Linked DNA regions of Homo sapiens: region 1 is linked to region 2. The links come from fine-mapping of genetic effects on gene expression. A gene starts in region 2. The other region holds a variant in brackets. All regions are shown on one strand. Distances are from middle to middle. Region 1 overlaps PCYT1A (phosphate cytidylyltransferase 1A, choline). Region 2 holds the start of SLC51A (solute carrier family 51 member A).

What was found.
Region 1: its variant is fine-mapped to the expression of SLC51A in tibial nerve (GTEx, PIP 0.93).

What each region holds. Positions count from the first base shown.
Region 1 is chr3:196,236,711-196,239,698 of GRCh38, forward strand. PCYT1A (phosphate cytidylyltransferase 1A, choline) reads right to left here. Exons shown (of 9, transcript NM_001312673.2): 8 at 2,837-2,988; 9 at 1-2,184. The coding sequence ends at 1,978. Among named protein-coding and RNA genes, the nearest start is that of SLC51A, 22 kb to the left of the region's middle. The variant A/T (reference allele first, on the strand shown) is at 1,534.
Region 2 is chr3:196,215,469-196,218,190 of GRCh38, forward strand. It overlaps SLC51A (solute carrier family 51 member A), which reads left to right and starts at 1,066. Exons shown (of 9, transcript NM_152672.6): 1 at 1,066-1,282; 2 at 2,374-2,468. The coding sequence starts at 1,245. All of the region lies in intron 2 of LOC105374304 (a long non-coding RNA gene), which reads right to left.

The DNA of each region.
Region 1 (2,988 bases), 21 kb after region 2:
GGCTGGACTGCAGCGGCACCATCTCTGCTCACTGCAACCTCCGCCTCCTGGGTTCAAGGGATTCTCCTGCCTCAGCCTCCCAAGTAGCTGGGATTACAGGTGCCCACCACCACGCCTGGCTAATTTTTGTATTTTTAGTAGAGATGGGGTTTCACCACGTTGGTCAGGCTGGTCTCAAACTCGTGGCCTCAAGTGATCCACCAGCCTCAGTCTCCCAAAGTGCTGAGATGACAGGCGTGAGCCACCACGCCTTGCCTGGGTGATCCAAGTTTTAAGAACCAAGGTAGTCCTGCTGTGCAGGCAATGATTCTAGCCTCTGACCCTCAGGCGGAAAACTAGGTGTTACCAGAAAGTGTTTAGGGAGTGGACTATGAGATGCTCACAGTCCTAGCAGAGGCAAGGAAAGAGAAAATGTGGTTTTCTTAGCTGAAAACACTAAAATTCCACCCCCACAAGGGGTATTTATGAGTGACAGGGGTGGGGCCTGGACATAAGCAATTTTCCCCTGGATCTAGCCACAGGATTACTGATGGGTGATGATCTGCTAGGCCGCGTAGCTAAGCAGCTAAGGAGACAGGAGGCCAGGGCTTTAAAAGTTAGAGCATGCTCAACAGCAAGTGCTAAGCATTAGCATTCTTTGATTTGAAAGTCAAGTGTTGAATCCCCCCGGGCAAGCCAACAAGGCAGATGGAACCACAACCACCAGGCGTGTGTGAAAAGTGGGGAGAAAACCTACCACACTCTTGTCACGTGAGGGTATGCTCTGTGGCTTGCTGGAGGAGCAGCAGAGGGAGGTCCCTGCCAGCTGCAGCTCTCAGAGGAAAAGAAAGATGTGGAGCACTGGTTCCAGGGAAGAATGTTCTGAAGAGGGACAGAGGTCAAGGTGATAAGGCTGTTGCTTTAGAAAGGAAGGTGTTTCCTATGCTTTTGCCTTTACATTCTGTGCAAATCTCTCTAATATGGCTATGACCAAAATGGATTAACATCAAGTTCCAACAGCAGACATTTACAAAGTATCCTTTGTAAAAGGCTAGGTAATATTAATAGCATTCAAATAGGAGTAGCAGGGCCAGGCACTTACTCCCAGTAGGAAACTAATCTCAATCGACTTGGTATAGGATTGAGTATTGTCCCGCTCCTCTCCTCATCATTGTAACTCTAAAAGTGTTCCTTCCTTCGAAGGTAGATGGCACGAAAGAGACTGACAAAAGCTCCCAAAGAACTGGGTCACAGAGTTTTCTGAGAAGATGAACACAGCAGAAACACTGCAGTTGATGCCATGGGTCTGCTTCCATCCCCATCAGTGTCTTCATGGACCCCATTGGGTCCAACAAGAAACTCCTCAGGGAGTAAGAAAAGTTAGGTTCAGATCTCCTTCCCGCAGCCACAATGACACTGGTGACAGCAGTACGTTCAGGGGATTTGTGACTGTAACTCTGCTTTTCGCTTTTCCTTAAGGAAATCAAAATTAAGATATTTCTCCACAAATTACCCATCAGCGTGGCTCATTTCGTGAAGGACTTGGCAAGCCAC[A/T]TAGCTTCAGAACGGAAGGCAAATGCTATAGTATACCGGGAAGAAAAGGCCTCTGCGTATTACACTACCTCCTTCTTCTGCCCACTCCTCAGGGGCAAAAAATTAGTTCTACATTTGAAAGACGAATTTTTTAAAAAATTAATGAAAATGACAATTTCCCTGTTGAGATCACGTGAACATAAACAGTGAAACAAAGCCCTTGGGGGGGGGTAAATGGATGCAGAGCAGGCTTCTAAGGTGCAGTCCCCCTCCTTCGTGTGGGTGAGTGATGTCACTTGCAGGACAGGCTGTTTGGGTTCCCCCAGTCCTAGGTCTTCTTTCCCCAGTTGTCTTTCCTTTGTAGCTGTCCTTAGGTTTAGTGTTGGGGTCACAATTTGGAATTCAACAGAGAGCTTCTGAAGGTAATGGGACAGAAAGGGAGGACAGGAAAGGAGGGAGGAAACATTAGTCTTCTTCATCCTCACTGATATCATAGGCTGCAGCCTTGTGCCTGGAGAGATTTGCTGGGGAGCAAGGTGGGGAAGTCTTGCCGGAGAAGGGCCATCGGAAAGAGGGGGAGGGGGAGCGCTCGCGAGTAGGGCTGCTGCTGGGGCTCTGCTTCGGGCTGATGGCCTGCAGCATCCGGCCCTTCCCCTCTTTCAGCATATGTTTCTGCAGAAACCGAAAGGAAGAGTCAGAAAAACACCGTGGATCCTACTTAATCATCACTGAAGCATCTAGGACTGGGATAGTCTATGCTGTACTATTTATTTAAGGGTTCTCCCCTGCTGTCATCACCCGGGAAATTCCCCATTCTTCCTCAATAATCTAGTCTAGGATTATTCTAATTTATCCAAACACCTTCACAGACAGATCCTTCCTGATATCTAACCTAGGACTCACTTGCTCAATCTTTTATTTGGTTGAAAAGACTGCTACTCCTCAAAGACAGAATTCCCACCTTACCTGGGGTTCCTGCTGCAGCTACTTGTAGTGGAGGCTGCTTTCTTTTTATTGTTCTTTATTCTTTCCTTTCCTTCTATCTAAAATCATACCACAGATAAAAGCTGGGCAAGGCGACTTGCTTATCTTGTCACCAGACTTTAAGGTTGAGAGAGAGCTGGCAAAATTATCTAGGAGAATGTGTAACGTCTTTCTGTAAAGGTTTCAAAAACCTTGCTGGGGACAGTTGAAAGATAGTTCTGCCCAGATAAGGGGATAGACTAGATAACTTCTCAGTGTCGATGCCCCTTCCTGCTCAATGATTCTGTCATTCTTTCCACAACATGGAACTCCCTACATTGTCCAGTGGGAAAGAACATACCAGTGCTCCTTCCGGACCAAACATTTCCAGAAAACTTCCAATGAATTCTCGGGACTTCTCCTCCCACTTCTGAATGAGGTCAATGCTTTTTTCCTCCACCTTCTGAACAAATTCTTTTGACTTTTCCTCCACATCTTTCACTTTCTTCTTTA
Region 2 (2,722 bases):
CACCAGCCCAGCGCAGGAAGCCCCCTCTCCCTTCCCAGAATTGACCCTCTGCACCCTCTCCTGGGCCCTCTTCTCACTACCTCCATCTCCACCATGCCCCAACAGAGCCCCTCCCCCAGGCCCCTTTGGCCGCTCTCCACACCCCACAGCTTTCTGTCTGACCTGGTTTCTTAGCCTCTCTGGACCTCAGCCTCCTTATCTGTAAAATGGGAATAAGGATACTACTTCCCTTGTAACGCGGTGGTAAAGTTTAAATAAGCTAAGGAACACACTGCATGTCCTGCGGGCCCTGGCACACCAGACATGCTGACAGACGCTGGCTGCTTTCATCAGCTATGCAACCAAATTCTAAGGGGCCCTTCGTATGTGTCAGGCTGCGTGCCAGGAACCTAGAGGTACCACCGTACCACAGTACAAGATGCTGTGTCTGGCTTCGAAGAGATTTCAGTCTATGTGGAGAGAGAGAAAAGGGAAGCTATCAGCCAATAAAATCGTTTGCAAGCCTGTAATTCAGCAGGTTTTCAAGACCTGTCAAATGCCCAGCAATCTCACTCTGCAACTCTGCCTCTTAAATACAGCATCTTCCGGCCCAGCGTGGGGGTGGCTAAGCCCATCATCCAGATGTGATGAACTGGGGTCTGGGAAACCCACACCGGCCTCATCTGGCTTTTCCAGCCTGTCCTCCCTTCCACACATCAGGCTGACAGCACCAAACACGGCCGAGGCCTCAGCCCTGAGTCTCCCCGCTGCAGAGTGCCCAAGCCTGAGTTCCAGCAGGTTCTTCAGGGGCCGCTGACCAGGGAACACTGCGGTGAGGAGCGAGGACTTCGTCCCCACCCCGGCCCAGGGCAGGGGCTTCGTGGTGAGCCCACCCCACCCCAGAAGGCTCCTGGAAGGGCAGGGCAGACTGGCAGCAAAATCCTATAGGATGGGCCGGGCCAGAGGCAAGGGGTGGCCAAAGGCACCTGTCCAAGAGGTGGGAGGGACCACACCTGGGGGCAGGGACGAGTCAGGCACAGGGAACTCCGCCAGCCTAGAGGATCAAATTCCTCCGGGGTGAACTCTGAGATAGAAAGTTGGCCCGGGAAGCTCAAGGAGGGAGAGCGGCAGAGGGGAAGACTCTGCAATTCTGCTTGCCCCCCACCCCGGCCCAGGCAAGCCACCCTGCCCCCGGCCCCCACCTGCCCGCCCCGCCTGCCCTTCCTCACCCCGGTGCCTGCGGGATTGCTGGAGAGAACGCGGCGATGGAGCCGGGCAGGACCCAGATAAAGCTTGACCCCAGGTAAGTGAGGGCGGCGGGCCCTGGGCCAGTCGCTGGGCAGCGGTGGCCCCTATCCCGCGGCCTGTCCTCTCTCCCTCCCAGAGCCCTTTGGCGGCCGCACTCAGAATGAGACAGGACTGGAAATGCTCTAGCTGTTCCTAGGTCCTCAGGGACAACGTGGGTTTGGGCCAGGGTGTGACACTCCAGGGCCTCGGCCTTGCCCCCCAGCGTGGGGAGAGAAAGGTCGCAGAGCGGGGGCTGTGGAAGGCATTCGCAGAGGAAATGGCAGCATCCCTCAGCAGCAGGGGGCCCGTCCGTCTGTAAGGACTCACCCTTCCTCTGGGATCCTGCTCTTCCTCTCTGGTCAGTCCCTGGGCTGCTGCCCGACCCGCATGGAGAGAATCCACGGTGGGCTCTTCAGGCACGGCAGCCAGGCACAGCCTGGCTAGGTGGCAGCTTGTCTTACTCCCCCACCTGGGCCAGTTCTCCACTCCCTCTAAGAAAAGGGCCCTGAGGCCGGGCGCCTGTAATCCCAGCACTTTGGGAGGCTGAGGCGGGAGTCCAGGAGTTTAAGCCCAGTTCCAGTTTGAGTCCTGGAGTTCGAGACCAGTGTCTGAGCAACATGGCGAAATCCTGTCTCTACCAAAAATATAAAAAATTAGCCGGGCCTGGTGGCGTGCACCTGTAGTCCCAGCTTACTCATGGGGATGGGGGTTGAGTAGATCACTTGAGCCCAGGAGGTCAAGGCTGCCTGTATGAGCCAAGACAGACCACTGCACTCCAGCCTGGACAACAGAGCAAGACCCTGTCTCAAAAAGAAAAAAAAAGAAAGAAAAAGGAAGGAAGGAAGGAAGGAAAGAGAAGGGGAAGGAAGAGAGAAAGAGAAAGAGAGAGCAGAAGGAAGGAAGGAAGGAGAAGGGGAAGGGGAAGGGAGAGAGAAAGAGAAAGAGAGAGTGAAAGGAAGGAAGGAAGGAAAGAAAGAAAGAGAGAGAAAGAGGCCCTGAGGGGAAATGGACAAAGTCCTGCACTCAGGAGTGGTTGAGGGTCCAGTGTGCAACCCTCCCCCTTCCCCCAGCCCCCATGGTTCTGAGCACAGGCTGGTGTCTCGCCAGGTACACAGCAGATCTTCTGGAGGTGCTGAAGACCAATTACGGCATCCCCTCCGCCTGCTTCTCTCAGCCTCCCACAGCAGCCCAACTCCTGAGAGGTGAGTGGGGACCCTCCTCAGAGGGAACTGAGAGGAGGGAAACCAGGATAGCTGAGTGGAGCTGGGGAGAGGCGGCCCTGAGCTGGTGCACCTGGGCAGCCGGGGAGAATAACTGGCCCGGTGTCTGTCATCGTGGTTAAGGCTCTGGAGAAGGGCAATGCCTCAAGGAGTCAGTGGGTCAAAAGGGTAGCATGAGAGCCTGGCTCCGGAGAGCAACCGTCATGTTGGGCCTCCACAAAACTGGCCTCAAAGCT